Homo sapiens: one gene and its partners. The protein of the gene in region 2 binds, or shares a complex with, the protein of the main gene of each other region. Each region holds a gene or a part of one and is shown on either strand. Other genes may lie near its edges.

The links.
Region 1: BRD8 (region 2) and MORF4L1 share a complex: the UniProt entries of both Homo sapiens proteins name them as parts of the nuA4 histone acetyltransferase complex.
Region 3: BRD8 (region 2) and RUVBL2 share a complex: the UniProt entries of both Homo sapiens proteins name them as parts of the nuA4-related complex.

Annotation. Positions count from the first base shown.
Region 1 is NC_000015.10:78,868,925-78,875,904, reverse strand, and holds the start of MORF4L1 (mortality factor 4-like protein 1), read right to left. Parts: upstream 3,016-6,980; 5' UTR 2,888-3,015; coding exon 2,848-2,887; exon of another isoform or gene 2,687-2,847; intron 1-2,686. UniProt on the Homo sapiens protein: Component of the NuA4 histone acetyltransferase (HAT) complex which is involved in transcriptional activation of select genes principally by acetylation of nucleosomal histones H4 and H2A.
Region 2 is NC_000005.10:138,175,614-138,182,448, reverse strand, and holds the start of BRD8 (bromodomain-containing protein 8), read left to right. Parts: upstream 1-3,818; 5' UTR 3,819-3,834; coding exon 3,835-3,853; intron 3,854-4,781; coding exon 4,782-4,878; coding exon of another isoform or gene 4,879-4,883; intron 4,884-6,835. Other genes in the region: kinesin-like protein KIF20A, read right to left, coding at 1-126, 721-840, 938-1,027, 2,604-2,768. UniProt on the Homo sapiens protein: May act as a coactivator during transcriptional activation by hormone-activated nuclear receptors (NR). Isoform 2 stimulates transcriptional activation by AR/DHTR, ESR1/NR3A1, RXRA/NR2B1 and THRB/ERBA2.
Region 3 is NC_000019.10:49,010,875-49,016,485, reverse strand, and holds the end of RUVBL2 (ruvB-like 2), read right to left. Parts: intron 5,488-5,611; coding exon 5,393-5,487; intron 5,295-5,392; coding exon 5,176-5,294; intron 2,003-5,175; coding exon 1,883-2,002; intron 1,466-1,882; coding exon 1,336-1,465; intron 915-1,335; coding exon 800-914; intron 670-799; coding exon 644-669; 3' UTR 516-643; downstream 1-515. Other genes in the region: LHB (lutropin subunit beta), read left to right, coding at 176-418. UniProt on the Homo sapiens protein: Possesses single-stranded DNA-stimulated ATPase and ATP-dependent DNA helicase (5' to 3') activity; hexamerization is thought to be critical for ATP hydrolysis and adjacent subunits in the ring-like structure contribute to the ATPase activity.

The DNA.
Region 1 (6,980 bases), on a different chromosome or scaffold from region 2:
CTCTACCATTACATAAACTCTACAGTGTTTCAAGACGATTCTGTTAGCACTCATCAAATATTCTTTTTCCCTTGCAAGATATTCTCCGATCATCTAATTAATAAATTTTTTTTTTTTTTGAAATGGAGTCTCACTCTGTGGCCCAGGCTGGAGTGCGATGGCAGGATCTCGGCCTACTGCAACCTCCGACTCCCGGGTTCAAGCGATTTCCTGTCTCAGCCGCCCGAGTAGCCGGGATTACAGGAGCCTAACACCACGCCCTGCTAATTTTTGTATTTTTAGTAGAGACTGGGTTTCACCAGGCTCACCAGGCTGACCAGGCTGGTCTCGAACCGCTGACCTCAGGTGATCCACCGCCCCCACCCACCTCGGCCTCCCAAAGTGCTGGGATTAGAGGCGTGAGCCACCGTGCCCCACCCACTAAAATCATTTTTAAAACGTGGTTACACAATTCCATTTTAAACACAAGTACAAAACACACCTGGAAAGTAATGTTAAATACAGACTCTCTTACACAGCTTTCAAACCCTTACCTGGGGATACCTTGGTTCCTACTCTTCTCCAATTACCCCACTTAAAACGGCACAAGGAAATCTCTGCTGCTACTCCTCTCTTAACTAGCAACCCTCTAGAACTAAAGCGCTTCTTCCAGAACAGCCATCCTTAGGTTGTTCCCACAGCAGCGATTAACTTTTTGTGCCTTGACAGTCTGATAAACCCTACGAGCCTAATAGTTTCATAAATACATAAAACACACACTAGTACAAAGGAAACCAACTGTACTGAAACAAAACACTTTAAATGTCACGTTCTATGACATTACAGGACAAACAAGACTTGGCTGCTAATACAATAACTACCCTAATTTTGAAGAAATAAGAATGCGATAACTGAAAACATCTTCCATAACTGTAATGTTGAGATATGAAAATATACTGAAAATGCTAATGTGGTGGTTTTTTTCGGGGTTTAGGGGGAGCAATTACACTGTTAATTGAAATACTAAACTTGGGAGATAGAAAAAAAAATCTTCCTCAATTTCACGCACCGTCTCAATTAATGCACTGACTCTAGATTAAGAATATCTGCTCTAAAATGTCTAGTAAAATAATGAACCCATAGGAGGTAGAGTCAACAGCTTCTCAAGGTGAGAGAGGGGTATTAAAAGTCACACGGCCGAGAGCGATGCCTCACGCCCGTTAACCCCCCACAACTTTGGGAGGCCGAGGCGGGTGGATCGCTCAAGCCCAGGAGTTCGAGACCAGCCTGGGCAACATGAAACCCCGTCTCTACCAAAAATACAAAAAAAAAAAAAAAAAAAGAAAGAAAAAGAAAAGAAAAAACAAAAACCCTAAAAAACAAAACAGAACAAAACAAAACTTAGCCGGACGTGATGGCGCGCGTCTGTGATCCCAGCTACTTGGGAGGCTCGCTTTAGCCCGGGTGGGGGGCAGAGGTGAGCCGAGATAGCGTCACTGCACTACAGCCTGGGTGACAAACATCGTCTCAAAAATACAAACAAAAAAAGTCACTCATTAACAAAATACCCCTAAAACCTCCTTAAATATTCCATAAACTTAAAATACGCAGTACTACGGTTTGAGGTTTACGGCTCTAAAAGGAATTCTAATGCAAGTCTAAAAACCCCTAGAACAAAAATCGTACGCATGTAGACATCGTATTTACGGTAACTAGCATAAATTTCCATAGCAATGAAAAGGAATGTTAAAGTGTTCCTCCTTTCTCAACAGGACTTTACTTCCTTTTTAGCTATTAGACCTCCACCTTATTATACGTTAACTGAAGCGTTGTGAAAATTTAAAGAGCTGCCTTCCACTGGGAGTCAGTCTAACCTTACCCAAAACTCATGTCAATCGAAAACCAATTAATAAAAAGAAATTCAACTTTCAAGTCATTGTTAAACACTGCAACTAATCAAACAATTACTGCATTTAAAAAATGACGTCGAGGCAATGGGACTTACAAATGCAAACGGCGTCAACACTGCATTCAGATCATTTTTATTTACTTTTTACGAGCAACTGCAAAGCGAGAGCTCACTCACATTACCATAGGATCTCGGCACTGCGCCCAAGAATAGCAGAGTGATGCCTCCAGGCAACACAAAGCGGAGGAAAACGCTCATCTCACTTTTTTTTTTCTGTCCCCACCCACCACTCTGTGGTATGCGGAGGGCCCCGGCAACCTTCTGGTCGTCGTGGAAGGGGGCGCTGCATCTGCCCGTAAGCTGTGCCTCCATACGGGACCGAGACGCCGGCGGCCATGATGGCGCCGCCATCTTGCAACGGCCATTTTACAACGCACTTCTCCCGCCCCGTGGCGCCAAACCCACCCCCATCCGCAGCTGAGTTGCCACCGAACGCAACCACCCCGGGGCTCCAGGAAGCACCGAAAAACCCGTCGTAGCTGCCCAAGCGGCCGGGCGCGCCGCAGGACCGCCCGAAACAGCCACCGCCCCTCCCCCCCCGCCGCCACATCACTTCCCCTAACCGCCGCCATGGCGCTCCCGTCGCCTCCCTACAATAGGCTGCTCTCTCCGCGCCCTCTTCCTCAGAACAATAACAAACACTTGACGAGGGTGTGCCACGCGCCAAACGCTCTCTCTCCCACTCTAACGCCTGCGCAGCACTCTCGCTTCACAAAGCGCTTTCTCACAATGACGCACCGGAATTGCCATCCGCAATGCGCTTTCCCCGCACAAAGCACTGACCGCCGCCTTCTCAGGGCGCAGCCCGCGCCGCCCCCGGCCCTCAAGCCTCAATCACCTCGAGCCCGCCTCTATCTCCTGCGCCGTTAGGTGCCTTTTTCCCAAAGGCGCACACTCACCCTCCTGGAATTTAGGCTTCGGGTCCTGCTTCGGCGCCATTTATAAGTGATTCGCCGCCTCCTCCTTCTCCCACCACCCCCGACTACCGCCCCCTACTCTCTACCCCACCCAACTCCGCGTCAGACGCGCCGTCAGGCACTGCCAGCTCTACATCCTGGGCCGGATTTGCCAGCGCCCGCAGACCTCACAGCACCGCGACCCGCGCAGCCGCTGCTCCAGCCAACGACAGCCCGCCGCGCACGCGCCCCTGCGCCCGCGCCGCCCCAGGGCACGCCGGGACTGGTAGTTCGGAGTCGGTGGAGGCGCCCCCCCCCCCCCCCCGGGTGGGGGAGGGGCCGGCTACCCTACCCCACCCCACCCCCGCTTCTCTCTCCATGCCCCCGGCTGCTGCGGGTTGGTAAAGCGGGGATTTGATTTCGTGGGAGGTTAAGGCGGAGCTGGCGATGGGGGAGAGTGGGGGTGGTGAGCCACCAGTGATAATAGAATGGGAAAGGCCCAGTTGCGACGTCCCTTGGGCAAATAAGCCCCCGTTGATGTTGAAGTAGTCGGAGAGAATAGGGCTGGCTCGGAAACCTACATTCAATAGCATTCCGCTAGTTTTTGCATAGAAAGGCTTTAGGATCAGCAAGAGGGTGGGAACTGGGGTCCGCTTCTGGAAGCTTCGTTGTTTAGCAACCCCACTGCGGAGCCTATTTGGTGGGATTGATAGCCATTTGTTGGCTCCTAGGTCTACCTCCTCTTCTCCAGCCCAGCCTTGCGGAAATGAGGATGATGACGTGGGAAACACTAGTCACGCTTTAGCTTTTTGAGATAATGGAGCTCTGCTTTCTGAAAAAGGCTAGTGTGAATATGTCAACGTCTGTATTCCGTACCTGCCCTGTTTGTGCTTCTTGTCACTCTAAACAAACGGATTTCTTCAATATTATACCTTTTTTTTTTTTTCTGAGATGGAGTGTCGCTCCGTTGCCCAGACTGGAGTGCAGTGGCGCGATCTCTGCTTACTGCAGCCTTCGCCTCCCAGGTTCAATCGATTCTCCTGCCTCAGCCTCCGGAGTAGCTGGGATTACAGGCATGTGCCACCACGCCCAGCTAATTTTTGTATTTTTAGTAGATACTGGGTTTCACCATGTTGGCCAGGCTGGTCTGGAACTCCTGACCTCGTGATCCGCCCGGTTTGGCCTTCCAAAGTTCTGGGATTACAGGCGTGAGCCACCGTGCCTGGCCTAAACAAACGGATTTATGTCGTTCCCTGTTCAAAAACAACTTTGTTGGCTAAGCTGCAAAATAGCACCATTTCCGTCAGTTTATTGTGAGAATTACATATACGGGCTTAGCGCGGTACCCAACAATGAATAAGTGCTCAATGAACTTTAGACGATAAATCTCAAAGTCCTTAGCCTGGTATTTAAATCCTTCCACAAACAGCCCTTAGCCTACCTGCATCCCCTATGTAAACCTTTATCCTCCTACGCAAACCTTTGTCTCCATGACTTTTCTTTTTTTTTTTTTTCTTTCTGAGACGGAGTTTCCCTCTTATTAACCAGGCTGTAGTGCAAAGGCGCGATCTCAGCTCACTGCAACCTCTGCCTCCCAGGTTCAAGCGATTCTCCTGCCTCAGCCTCCCGAGTAGCTGGGATTACAGGCATGTGACACCACACCGGGCTAATTTTTGTGTTTTTGTAGAGATGGGGTTTCTTCATGTTAGTCAGGCTGGTCTTGAACTCCCGACCTTAGGTGACCCGCTGGCCTCGGCCTCCCAGAGTGCTGGGATTACAGGCGTGAGCCACTGCGCCCAGCCTGTCTCCATGGCTTTTCTAAGCCCTCCCCTGCCCGGGTTCCACACCCCACCAATTCCGGGCCCCTCTCCATTTATCTGACTTCCATTTCTCCTTCAGTCTTTTTAACACAACCCCTTCTCTGACAACAGAAACCCACAAAAACCTTCCTTATTCCAGTTGAATATACACCATCTTGTCACGACTACTTCTCGCAAGCTTGTCCAACCTGTCTTATTTTGTTGTTGTTTTGTTTTGTTTTGTTTAGGCTTTTAGCACCCTGAAGCCATGGTTTTTAGTTTCAGTCTCTAGTGATAAGTGGAAAAGGGGGATGAGGAAGGGGCTTTACTGGCCCAACCAGAAACAGAAACTAAGAACCCATGACTGTATTCACTCCCTTGGACACCATTGCTAAATTGTAAAAAGGGACAAGGGCTTCTTTGGACCCCACCCCACCAAAACTGTCCTGTACACTTTTAAATTTTTTATTGAATATAAAATACGTACTTTTTTTAAATTATTTTTTTGAGACAGTCTCGCTCCGTAGCCAGGCTGGAGTGCAGTGGCACAGTCTCAGCTCACTGCAACCTCTGCCTCTTGGGTTCAAGCGATTCCCCTGCCTCAGCCTCCTGAGTTGCTGGGACTCGGTGTGCCATCACGCCCAGCTACTTTTTTGTATCTTAGTGGAGATGGGGTTTCACCATGTTGGCCAGGATGGTCTCGATCTCCTGACCTTATGATCCTCCTGCCTTGGCCTACCAAAGTGCTGGGATTACAGGCATGAGCCACTGCGCCCAGCCAATTTTTTGTTGTTGTTGTTGTTATGAGACCAAGTCTCACTCTGTCACCCAGGCTAGAGTGCAGTGGTGCAGTCTCAGCTCACTGCAGCCTCCACCTCCTAGATTGAAGCGATTCTTCTGCCTCAGCCTCCCAAGTAGCTGGGTTTACAGGCGCATACCACTATGGCCGGCTAATTTTTGTATATTTAGTAGGGATGGGGTTTCACCATGTTGGCCAGGCTGTTCTCGAACTCCTGACCTCAGGTGATCCACCCGCCTCGGCCTCTCAAAGTGCTGGGATTACAGACGTGAGCCACTGCGCCCAGCCTGCACATACTTTTTTAATCCAAACGTTTAAAAATACAAAAATGAAAATAGTGGGCCGGGCGCGGTGGCTCACGCCTGTAATCCCAGCACTTTGGGAAGCCAAGGCAGGCGGATCACGAGGTCAGGAGATCAAGACCATCCTGGCTAACACGGTGAAACTCCATCTCTACTAAAAATATAAAAAATTAGCTGGGCGTGGTGGTGGGCGCCTGTAGTCCCAGCTACTCAGGAGGCTGAGGCAGGAGCATGGCATGAACCCAAGAGGCGGAGCTTGCAGTAAGCCGAGATTACGCCACTGCACTCCAGCCTGGGCGACAGAGTGAGGCTCCATCTCAAAAAAAAAAAAAAAAAGAAAATAGTGAAAGTCTCTTTCCCACCTCCACCCCTCATCTGCCCAGTTCCCCCACTGTTATGAGTTGTTTGGGAATCCATGAGTTTTTTTATCCTAGAACCCTCTTTGTGTTATTTCTTCTTTTGTATTGAAGTTAACTTATTTGCCTTTATGTGTTAATTACACAGGTAATATTCAAATATTTGGGCTCATGATGCAACAATTGAGAAATATAAAATACAGGGCAAAACTTAAGGAACATGTTTATTCCCCGCTCCCCCCATTTACCTTCCCACCATTTGGCGTGTGCATTTTTCTCCATTTTTTTTTTTTAACCATAAATGGTCTGTACATATTGTTCAGTTGCATTCTTTTTTTTTTTTTTTTTTGAGACGGAGTCTCGCTCTTTCGCCAGGCTGGAGTGCAGTGGTGAGATCTCGGCTCACTGCAACCTCCGCCTCCCGGATTCCAGCGATTCTCCTGCCTCAGCCTCCTAAGTAGCTGGGATTACAGACGCCCGCCACCATGCCCGGCTAAGTTTTGTATTTTTAGTAGAGACAGGGTTTCACCAAGTTGGCCAGGATGGTCTCGATCTCTTGACCTTGTGATCCGCCCGCCTCAACCTCCCAAAGTGCTGGGATTACAGGCGTGAGCCACCACGCCCGGCCCAGTTGTATTCTTTTTTAACATAATAATATATCTTGGAGATTGTTCAAATTACATACAGGCCTATCTCACCTTTTTTTTTTTTTTTTTTTTGAAACAGCGTCTTGTTCTGTCTCCCAGGCTGGAGCACAGTGGCATGATCATGGCTCACTGCAGCTTGCAGCTCCTGGGTTCAAGTGATCCTCCTGCCTCAGCCTCCCCAGTAGCTGGGACTACAGGTGGATGCCACCACACCCAACTAATACTTTTATTTT
Region 2 (6,835 bases):
GGTTTTCCCTGAGTTAGTGACTCCATATGTATAGATGAGCCAGTTCTGCCCTTTGAGTACATCCTTTACCATCTCCTTCACAGTTAGGTTGAAGAAGGATGCCTGTCCCACTTCTGGCCCAAAGATCTAGAGAGAGACCCAGTTTTTTAGAGGCCTCTCCTTCATCTCCCACTTGCCTCCTGTGCAGAGCCAGCAGATATATTCCTTCCTGAGTGGTTGGCTCTGGAGACCACTCAAGCAGCTTCTTCCTGCAATGCTGCTGGCTGTTCCCTAAACACTGAGGACTCAAGCACTCTCTGCTAGTCCATCTTTCCACCAAATCAACAAACACTTAAGGAATGCTATGCCCTAGGCCTGATGCTGCACACACAATGGGGCAATATAATGGCCCACAAGTATGGGCTTTGGAGATACATGGATCTAGACTCAGGTCCTAACTCTACTAGTGACTAGCTACATGGCTTCAGCAATATTACATTCATTGAGCCACACTATCCTTGTGAGGAAAATAAGGAAATAATGATAATAACAATAGAATTTTTCAGAACTGATATACATATGTTACTTGACACATTGACTAACACATAACTAGGGCCCTCAAAATTGTAGGTGTGCATATACAAGGAACTCACAGTCAGGAAGAGAAGCTTTCCCTCTAAAGAGGGAATAAAGTTGCCCTTACATGTTGGTCTTTTGTTCACAAACCAGTACCCTCCATACCTGGGAAAAGGTGAACCTGTGTGTGGCTTGGCCAATTCCCCGTTCATTGCTCTTCAGGGCAAAAGAGTCCTTGGGTGCTTGTAGAACAAGGGTCTCCACATTCTCAATACGGACACAACCCTGAGAAGGGAGAAAATACAGTTGTCACAGAAGGCATTCCTGGGAATCTTTTGTACTGCATCATTTCACCTTGAATCCTCCCTTCTCAGACACTTACCTGATCTTCCTGTCGTTCCAACTCTGAAGGTAACAAGGGCCTAACCCTCAAGTATACTTTCACCTTCTCCATACTGTCCTCAGATGGAACCTGTGGCAGAATCCCAGCCCAGAACCACAGATTAATTTCAGCAGTTACCTCTGAGCAAATGGGCAAACAGTAGTTTCTAGGAACTATGATAACACTACCCCATTTCACCTCAAATGTCTCTGTGCAGCTACTCTTTGGTTCCACAATCATTCCAACCCACATGGACATTTTTACTACTTTGTCACCCTTCCCTGTCTCGTCATTATCCTGCAAATGTGGCTTGCCACACCGATGATCTGAGTTCGAATTTATTGACTGGTATGAAAATTAGTATGTGATATTAAAGCAAAGCAGAGGCAAACACTTGAATTTGAGTCCCAATTCCATGACTTAGTAACTATGAGACCTTGAATTATGAGTTCTTGAAATTCTTGGCCTCAGTTTCCTCATCTGCAGAATGGGGTTAATAATAGCACCTATGTCATTCATTCAACAGATACTTAGAGGCTGGGTGCAGGGGCTCACGCCTATAATCCCGGCACTTTGGGAGGCCAAAGAGGGTGGATCACCTGAGGTCAGGAGTTCCAGACCAGTCTGGCCAACACAGCAAAACCCCATCTCTACTAAAAATACAAAAATTAGCTGGGCTTGGTGGTAGGTGCCTGTAATTCCAGCTACTCAGGAGGCTGAGGCAGGGAGAACTGCTTGAACCCGGGAGGCGGAGGTTGCAGTGAGCAGAGATTGTGCCACTGCACACCAGCCTGGGGGACAGAGCGAGACTCCATCTCGAAAACAAAAAAACCCAAAAAACAAAAAAAACCCAGATATTTAGAGTGTCTACTATGGCCTAGGAACCGAGAAGCTCTGATAGTCCATAGTGAGAGACATCATCAAGGACCATGCTCTCATGGAACTTTATAAGTCTCTAAGAGAAACTCTATAAGAGCACAAAATCTGACAATGTATGTTAATGTTTAGCATAGGACCTAGTACAGTGTTTCTCAACCAGGGTCATTTCCACTCCAAGGGCCATTTAGCAATGCCTGAAGTGCCTGAAGACATTTTTTGATTGTCACAAATGGGAAGGCACTACTGACATCTAGTGGGTAAATGCCAAGAATGCTATTAAACATCTTGAAATGTACAGGACAGATCCCTACAAGAACTGTCTAGCCCCAAATGTCAATAATGCTGTAACTGAGAAACCCTGGCCTAGCAGGAAACCTACAACAAATTGAAGCTATGGTGATACTATTAAAACCTGAACATACATTCCACTTACATAATGCCTATATGACCTTGTGCAAATTATTTAGCACAACTGGGCCTCAAGGCAAAGAGAGATAACTATTATTCCCTGAAAGATTAACTAAGAGCATGCATTTGAGGCTATTTCATTAATGCAATGCAAATTATAGTTCTTCTGGACACACAACTCAATTTTTTTTTTACTTGTCATGCCCTTAATTTTTTTTTCTTTTTTTCTTTTCATAGCCATTTTGTCCTAAATGCCCTTAATTTTGAATTGATCTCAGACCTTTAGGATTGCTAGTCTTTGACCTCATACTACCCTGTATGGACAATTATTGGCCTGAGGATATCACTTTCCGCCCCAGCCACTCCCCAGTTCCTTTACCTGCTGCTTGTCCTCTAGGGAGGTAGAGACGACAGAGCAGTCTGATAGCAGGTTCTTGCGTACCACAGACCCCAAATCTGCAGCTGTGGACTCAAACATGGGAGAAACTACGACATCGTCATCGGACAGCAAGCCCGCTGGCGGAGAAAGGATCCCTTGCGACATGACGGCAGGGGCAGCCTAGGTCTAAAAAGAGACCAAAAAGTGGGCAGGGAGAAGAACCTTTAGGGACAGAAGGGGCCGCGAATTTTAGGTAATAAGTCCCTTGCCCCAGGACACCGTGTCCCGCTTCCTACTTCTTTTCCCCTCCAATTATCGGCAAAGGGGAAGGGAATGAGAGAAGTTCACTTAATGAACAATTGAGAGAAGTTTGAGGCGGCATTTCTGAACGCGAACAGAAGTCCACAGACATCTGGCTCCAAAAGCAGAAGGCTACGCCTAAAGTAGGGCACCTCGCCCGCCGGTGCTGTGGAGGTGGTGTCAGGATCCCTCGGCTCCTTCTCTAACCTCACCCCAAGGACCACCGTGAGAACAGAGATGCAGCATTAAGAGAAAAACAGATGGCTGCAGCTCCGATTTCTTAAAGCCTATTCCGCGCGGGCAAGAGCTGGTAACCCGGGCTCCAGCACAGCCGCACACTCACCCGAAGACGTGCCACTTGCTCCTCCTGGGATACTGGCTTACTCACACCTAGTCGCCGAAGCTGGACTTTCGCAGCCGCAGAGCACAACTCCGCCCACGAGGTGCAGCTTTGTTACAGATACAATATTTTAAATTACGCGCTGCGTTCGTTCGGCCAATCAGATAGGGAAGCCTGCAGCTACCAATCCGCGTAAGGAAAGGGGGCGGGCCTGACTGGAATTCCAGTCGTTCGCTTCTGCTTGACCTCTGAGTTCTAATGTGGGTCCGGGTTACCAACTGTCGTGGATTCGCACTTATTTTGCCTGGGATTCTTCCAACTTAACCTTTTTCCTTGAACCTTAGACATTTCTTACCTAAGAGCCTAAAGGAAATCTTGAGGCTTCAGCAGCCAACTCCTGTCCTTCCTTAGCAACAATCTTAACAGGAGTGCACAGGGTAACTGGTTTAGGGTGCTTGCTTTGTCTTAAGGGGAAAAACGACATTTCCCAGGAGGCACCGCGAACCAACGCCGGTACACTATTTCCCAGAATTCCAGGGTTTCGGCCCTTCCAGACCGTCTCTCCTCAGGGTTGGAGACTTCGGGGCCAAGATGGCGACGGGAACGGGCAGTGAGTATCTGAGCAGGTTTTGCGTGAAAGGCCTTTGTAGATCCGAGGCTAGGCACCATATTTTTGTTACACGCTTAGGGAGTGGGAGAAGTGGGTTGCTTGAGAGCCCAGGGTTTTCAGAGACCTGCGCTCTACAGCATCGTGAAGACCAACGTTTGGGGGCCCAGAAATCTGGGGTCTTGTTTCTCAGGGAGAGAGCGGAGGTGTGAGAGAAGCAGCTTAGTGAATCCTAGTGTGTTAGGAACTCTGCGGGTTAACCGTAAAAGCACTCTAGAAACTTGGGCGTGCAGACGAAAAGATGTTATGAGCCAGACGGAGTAACCGGCACCTCAAAGAGCCATTCATTTTTTTGTCTGACGTTTGTGAGGCAGTGGAAGTGGGGTCTTTTAACCATGAGCTTTTCTTGCCACTCAGGAAATTGCATCTCGGGGATTTCAGCCATTTTTCTTTTTTTGGACTGAAAAGCTCTTTTACCCCCGACATTTGGAGTAGAGGATCTGAGAGAAGTAAACAAGTTTATGCTAAGAGGGAGGCGGGGTAGTAGGAGGGGCTGGCCGCTCGGGTTCCTGGGAAATAAGCCCTGAATAAGTTCAAACTGGAATAAAGTCCAGTATTCTTAAAACTGGGCTTTTAGGGAGAACTGCCTAATCTGACATTCCCTGTTTCTTAATAAAGCGGAGCTTCAAGCCATGGCGTTTTAAGAAATAAAATGTTAATAATTCACATGCAACGAATAGGTACCCCGGTCACTGGTGATATTTCACTTGGAGAGGTGAAAATCAAGATTTGGTTATAGTAGCTCACTTTGTCCTAACAAGTTGGGATGTTTTGTATTAGGCTTTTAGTCCTCTTTTTGGGGATTTTGGAGCTTAGCACTACAGTCTCAGTGGTTGTTTCCAAGGCTTTTTTTTTTTTCTCCCTTTCCCAGAACACAAGCTGCTAAGCACTGGCCCCACAGAGCCATGGTCCATCCGAGAGAAGCTATGTTTAGCATCTTCTGTCATGAGAAGTGGCGATCAAAATTGGTAAGGTATCTAGGATGTCAGCTTTTCTGGGTCTTAGAAATTGTTAGATACTCTTTCACATCGGTAGATTTCTATAGTTAATCATATTAAGCTGTAAGTAGACTTTCTTTTCTTTTTCTTCTTTTTTTGAGACTGAGTCTCCTTCTGTTGCCCAGGCTGGAGTGCAGTGGTGCGGACACGCCCAGCTAATTTTTGTATTTTTTAGTAGAGACAGAGTTTCGCCATGTTGGCCAGGCTGGTCTCGAACTCCTGACCTCAGGTGATCCCCCCACCTCGGCCTGCCAGAGTGCTGGGATTACAGGTGTGAGCCACTGCGCCTGGCCATGCCTGGCTAATTTTGTATTTTTAGTAGAGACGGGGTTTCACCATGTTGGCCACGATGGTCTCAATCTCCTGACCTCATGATCTGTCCGCCTCGGCCTCCCAAAGTGCTGGGATTACAGGCGTGAGCCACTGCCAGGCCTATTTTTTTTTTTTTTTTTTTGAGACAAGATTGCACTCTGTGGCCCAGGCTGGAGGGCAGTGGTGTGATCTTGGCTCACTGCAACCTCCATATCTCAGGCTCAAATGATCCTCCACCTCAGCCTCTTGAGTAGCTGGGACTACAGGTGCACACCACCATGCCCAGCTAATTTTTTTTATTTTTTTGTAGAGATGGGGGTTTCATCATGTTTCCTAGGCTGGTCTCGAACTCCTGCGTTCGAGCGATCCGCCCAACCTACTGGGATTACAGGTGTGAGCCACCAGGCCAGCTGTATTTCTTTTTTTAAACAGCTTTATTGAGATATAATTCACATACTATAAAATTAACCTACTTAAAATGTACAATATAATGGTTTTTAGTATATTCACAGTTGTGCAACCATCACCACAATCTAATTTTAGAACATTTTATTCTAAGAAAAACCCCTTACTCCTTAACTGTCAGTCCATGTTGTCCCCTCCTCACCACCCCCAAGCAAGCACTCATCTACTTTCTATTAATTAATTAATTAATTTGAGACAGAGTCTCACTGTCACACAGGCTGGAGTGTAGTAGTTAGATCTTGGCTCACTGCAACCTCCGCCTCCCAGGTTCAAGCGATTATCGTGCCTTAGCCTCCCAAGTAGCTGGGATTACAGCCATGCGCCACGAGTGGCCTGGCTAATTTTTGTATTTTTAGTAGAGATGAGGTTTTGTCCAGGCTGGTCTTGAAGTAATGCACCAGTCCTGGCCTCCAAAAGTGCTGGGATTACAAGTGTGAGCCACCATACCCAGCCAACTCTCTTGTCTCTGTAGATTTGCCTATTCTGGATATTTCATACAAATGGAATGATACGTGCTCTTCTGGACTTTTTTTTGTTTTTTTTAATCACTTGACATAACACTTTTTAAGGTTCATTCTTATGTAGCATGTATCAATACTTAATTCCTTTTTTAGCTGAATAATAATCTGTTGTATGAATATACCAAGTTTTATTTATCCATCACTTGATAGACAATTGGGTTGTTTCCACTTTTTGGCCATTATGAATAATGCTGATGATGTGCACATTCGTGTACAAGGTTGTGGACAATGTTTTTAATTCTCTTGAGTTTTTTATTCAAGGAGTGAAATTGCTGGGTTATGTAGTAACTTTATTATGTTTGACTTTTTTTTTTTTTTTTTTTTTTTTTTGCAGACAGGGTCTCACTGTCACCCAGGCTGGAGTGCAGTAGTGCGATCGTGGTTCACTGCAACCTCTGCCTCCTGGGCTCAAGTGATCCTCCGGCCTCAGCCTCCTGAGTAGCCGGGACTACAGGCACATGCCATCACCCCTGGCTAATTTTTGTATTTTTTGGTAGGGATGGGGTTTTGCCATGTTGCCCAGGCTGAACTTTTTTTTTTTTTTTAATTTAAATATTTATGTTTTTGTAGAGACGAGGTCCCACTATGTTCCCCAGGCTGGTCTCCAACTCTTGGCCTCAAGTGATCCT
Region 3 (5,611 bases), on a different chromosome or scaffold from region 2:
GGGGGAGGAAGGGTGGTCTGCCTCTCTGGCCTGCGGTTGGGGAATGGGGTGTGGGAAGGCAGGAACAGAGGGCTTCCTGGGCTCCTGAGTCCAGGACCTGTGGGGTCAGCTTGGGAGCTCAGCTGAGGCGCTGGCCTCAGGCACATGCTCATTCCCCCACTCACACGGCCTCCAGATGCGCGTGCTGCAGGCGGTCCTGCCGCCCCTGCCTCAGGTGGTGTGCACCTACCGTGATGTGCGCTTCGAGTCCATCCGGCTCCCTGGCTGCCCGCGTGGTGTGGACCCCGTGGTCTCCTTCCCTGTGGCTCTCAGCTGTCGCTGTGGACCCTGCCGCCGCAGCACCTCTGACTGTGGGGGTCCCAAAGACCACCCCTTGACCTGTGACCACCCCCAACTCTCAGGCCTCCTCTTCCTCTAAAGACCCTCCCCGCAGCCTTCCAAGTCCATCCCGACTCCTGGAGCCCTGACACCCCGATCCTCCCACAATAAAGGCTTCTCAATCCGCACTCTGGAGGTGTCTTTCTGTGGGCTCAGGGCAACCACACATACACAGGGTGGGTGCAGCTTCCCAACCATTTTATACAGAGTCACAGTGTCAGAACTCTGGTGGAAAACAGGGTGGGGTCGGGGGATGACATCCAACTCAGGAGGTGTCCATGGTCTCGCCTTCTGTGGGGAGAAGGAAGGCCACATGGTCAGTGTCGCCCAGGTGGCAGGGCCTGAGCCTTCTACGCCGAGCTCCCTCTTCCTCCCTCTGAGGTTGGCTCTGGCAGTGCAGGTGCGGGGTGGGGATTCTTACTGAGTTCGTTGAAGAGGAAGGCGTCCTGGTACTCCTTCATGTACTGCGTGGAGCGGGACTCGTCCAGGAAGAGTGAGTAGACCCGCTTGATGTCATCCACCTGCACTTCTGTACCCTGGAGGGGGAGGGCGAGTCCTCAGTTGGGCCCCTCTCCGTGAGGCTCAAGGCACAGACCCCAGCGTATGCCACCTCCATGCTCTAGGCAGCAGAGTGTGGCATGTGAGGGGAGGGCATTCTGGGCCAGATTGCCTGGGTTCAAATCCTGCCTGGCCATCTCCTTGTTGTGGGCCCAGCCTCTTCATTCCTCAGTTTCTTTATCTGTAAGGTGGACCTAACAGCATCTACTTAAGTCAAGAGAGATTTACTGATACCTACTATAGGCCAGGCTGGATGATACAGAAGCCAACCTGAGGGATGAAAATTCCCTGCGTCTGAAAACGTACATTCTAGGATGAAATCGGAACCCTGGAAGCCCCTGAAGTACTGTGTCACTCACTGCCGCCATCTGGCCCTGCTGGCTAATTCGGCCGGCTGACCTTGCGTTTCCGGCACACCAAGCTGGCAGCTGTGATGAGCTGGATGGCGTAGCGCAGTGACGTCTCCAGCCCGATGCGGGTCAGCACCGTGTAGGCGTCCTCACTCATCTCCACATCTTCTTCCTCGCACCTGCAAGCAGTGGGGGACAGGGGTGGCTCAGCCGGGGCCCAGCCTCTGACTGCAGCAGAAGTGGCCACAGCAACCCTCTGGCCCTTCCCCACTGGGAATATGTGGCGCCTGCATCTTAGAACCATAGAATGCTGAGGCTAGAAGAGCCACGGAGACAGGGGCTGGGCTGGACCTAAAACCGAGGCCTCCTGACCACCCCCAGGGCGCTGGCCCCAACACCAGTCACGGGTACCTCGCCTCCCTTTCCCACCGTGGCTCCTGCTCCCGGATCGGAGGCCACCGTCTGGGTGCCCGCTCAGCCCTCTCTCCTGTAGGCCCAGCCACCATGCCACTCCGCTGGACCTCAGTGTCAGCATTTGTCAAACAGGGTAGACCCCAGCCCTGCGTCTCAGGCGCACGGCCTGGTCCTGCCCGCACCGGATGCGGAGGATCTGCTTCGTGTCTTTCTCGCTGTAGGGGGTGGTGGAGACGATAAGCAGCCGGTCCAGCAGGTCTATGGGGATGCCGTGAGGGCTCTGGTAGCTGGTGCCCCGGATTCTGAGGAAGAGGCAGAAAGAGGGGGCTGTCAGGGGCATGTTCCCTCTTCATTCCCTTTGCTGGGAACACTCTCACCTCCCATCGCCACCCACTCACTGGGCCCAACACCACTTAACCTTTAGCTCGCGTCTCCTGTCACATGATGACATCACCCCTGATGACGCAGCCTTCCACAGCTGCGTCAGTCCCCCAAGGGCACCTTTCCGCGGAGCTGGGCTGCTTTAAGCTAGATCTCTGCCTCCAGGATTACTGGATCAAGGTCCCACTCCCGTGCTCGACACAAAGCTTCACAAAGGAGGGGACTGCACCTGTCTTGTTCCCTGCTGCAGCGGGGCCAGCCCAGGGCTGGTGCCAGGGGATACAGTCAGTTCCCCTTATTCACAGTAGTGAGGTTCTAGAAAGTCATCGTGAACACTCCAATTAGCTGATCCTGAGCCACTGCTCCTACTGGAATACAGGGTTAGGCTCTCTCGAGCCTCGGCTTACAGTATTTTCATCAATCCATATATATATAATCTGGGTCTATGCGTATTTTCATTTGTGTGTTTCTGGTCTTTTTGGTTTGTTTTTTGAGACGGAGTCTCGCTCTGTTGCGAGGCTGGAGTGCAGTGGCGCGATCTCGGCTCACTGCAACCTCCGCCTCCCGGGTTCAACCGATCCTCCTGCCTCAGCCTCCCAAGTAGCTGGGTCTACAGGCGCACGCCATCACGCCCAGCTAGTTTTTTCTATTTTTAATACAGACAGGGTTTCACCATGTTGGCCGGGACGGTCTCATTCTCTTGACCTCGTGATCCACCCACCTCGGCCTCCCAAAGTGCTGGGATTACAGGTGTGAGCTACCGCGCCTGGCCTCATGTATGTGTGTTTCTATTTCCATGTGTTTGTTATGTAACATCACTGTTTATTCTCTAACATGGAGCTCGTGTCAACAGCATTCTAACTTGGGCTCAGCGAAGCGTCTGTAACATGGCATTTTCTCCGTCAGGCTTCACAGCCTCCTTGCACTTAGGATACTAGACAGCACTTCAACACTGTGCACAGGGGACACTTTAAATGGCAATATCACCAACAAATGGCCCCAAAAAGTTTAAAAAAAAAAGGCACAAAAAAAGTGACAACACTTTGGGAGGCTGAGGCGGGTGGATTGCTTGAGCCCAGGAGTTTGAGACCAGCCTGGGCAACATGGCAAAACACCATCTCTACAAAAAAAAAAAAAAAATTAGGCCGGACGCGGTGACTCACCCCTGTAATCTCAACACTTTGGGAGGCTGAGGTGGGCAGATCACGAGGTCAGGAGTTCGAGACCAGCCTGGCCAATATGGTGAAACCCTGTCTCTACTAAAAATACCAAAATTAGCTGGGCATGGTGGCGGGTGCCCATAATCCCAGCTACTCAGGAGGCTGAGGCAGGAAAACTGCTTGAACCCAGAAGGCAGAGGTTGCAGTGAGCCGAGATCGTGCCACTGCACTCCAGCCTGGTGACAGAGCTAGACTCCGTCTCAAAACAAAAACAGAAATTAGCTAGGCATAGTGGTGCATGCCCGTGGTCCCAGCTGATGAGGAGGCTGAGGCCAGAGGACTGATTGAGTCCCAGGGGTGGTGTGTGTGTGTGTGTGTGTGTGTGTGTGTGTGTGTGTGTGGTGGGCACTGAGGCTGCAGTGTGCCATGATCGTGCCTCTGCACTCCAGCCTGGGCGACAGAGCAAGACCCTGTCTCAAAGAACAAAAGTGACAAACGTAGCACTAAATAGAATACAACAAGGACACTTATTTACAGCATGAGCGCTAAGGGAGCAGGCAGTGTTGCCTCGTTCACACTCAGCTGGGAAAGTGGGTGTCAGGTGACTTGAATTTGTTGCCGAAAGCAGGGCAGATATTTATTTGGGGATTACAAATAAATCTTAGCAAGCGAGATTCTCAGATACAGAGTCTACGAACAATCAGGGCTGCCCGTAGCTGCTGCCTCCCACAGGAGGTGCCCCTGGGCAGTCCCCAGGCCCTGACCTGCAGTTTCTGTGAAAACACCATCAGCCCTGGGGGTCTCTTCCAGTGTCCAGCCATCCAGAGACCAAATTACGGCCCTGCTACCTTCTAGACTTGTGACCTGGGCAAGTCACTGGGCCTCACTGTCCTGCCCTATAAAATGGGGCTGAGGTGATATCTACCTTCTGAGCTTCTTCTGCGGATCCAAGGAGTTAAAAGAGCCAAACACAGAGCCAGGCCCAGCGGCCCAGCATCCTCTGTAGGGTGCCCGCTTCTTCCCTTTTGTGATGCCCATCCCAACCGCCCAGTTTCAGCTGGGCCCAAGGCTGCAGGGCTGGAGCTGACAGTACCCAGCCTTCTTTGCCACCAGGTACAGCACTGAGCCCAAGCAGTGCCGGGCAATGGAATGGGGGTGCAAGGTTGGGGTGCAGCCTGTGGATCACAGCCTATGGGGGCTGCCTGCCCTCCACATCCCCCTGCTTCCTGCGGGCCAAAATGTGGCGAGGTGGAGAAGACAGCCAGCGGGCATGGTGGCAGGTGCCCGTAATCCCAGCTACACAGGGTGCTGGCAACACCTGGGAGACGAGGTTCCCAGGCTTCAGCACAGCACAGTACCCTCTGTGTCACAGGAATCTGTCCCCGGCATCCTCAGGCCAAACACAACATTAAGAGTTCCCCGTGCACAGGGTGCTGGCAACACCTGGGAGATGAGGTTCCCAGGCTTCAGCAGAGCACGGTACCCTCTGTGTCATGGGAATCTGTCCCTGGCATCCTTAGGCCAAACACAACGCTAAGAGTTCTGTTAATGGAGTTGCTGGGTCGAAGTGACTGAACAATCGTAGTTTATGTTATGTCTAACAGATGTCACTGTGCTTCCCTCAAGACTAGAAAACATCCCACAGCACTCCTGTGAGTTTCCTGCAGCACCCTGGGGTGCCTCGGCACGCAGTTTGAAGACTGCAGCCTTGGGGGCTAAAGGAGCAGCAAGACAGAAAGGCAGCAAGAACACAGTCTCTGGGCTTCCTCGGGAAGCAGAGCTGCCTCCCACCCGCCTTTTGTAAGCAAAGAGCGCACACTGCAGTCACGCGTCCCTCCCTGACCCGGTGTCAACACAGGCTCCCATTGACCCTCTGACCACACCCACTGCCCAGAGCATCCTGTTTTCCCCAGAGGCCCCTGTAGCCGGCTCACCGCGTGATGCCACGGTTGGTGGCCATGATCAGGACAGGCGCCATGTCACTCTCCAGGGCCCGGTTGAGGAAGGAGAAGCTCTCGATGTCCAGCATGTGGACCTCGTCGATGAACAGCACCTTGGATTGGGGTGTGTGTGAGAGTCACCACCCGCGTCCCCACTTCCCCGGCCCACCTCCACCCCACCACCCGCCCCGGCCATGTCCTGGGTCCTCACTCCAGGGATGATCTCCGCCTTGCCCTCCTCGCGCCACTCAGCCACCTTGGCATTGATCTGCTCACGGACTTCTGACTTGATCTCCCCTGTGTCACCTATGGGAGGCACAGGTTGCATCAGGGAAGCCAGAGAGGAGGCGGGTTCCAGGGCCAGAGTGTGGCTAAGACAGAGAAGGATGATGCCAGGGATGGAGGAAGGGGAGCAAAGCAAGGAGGGATG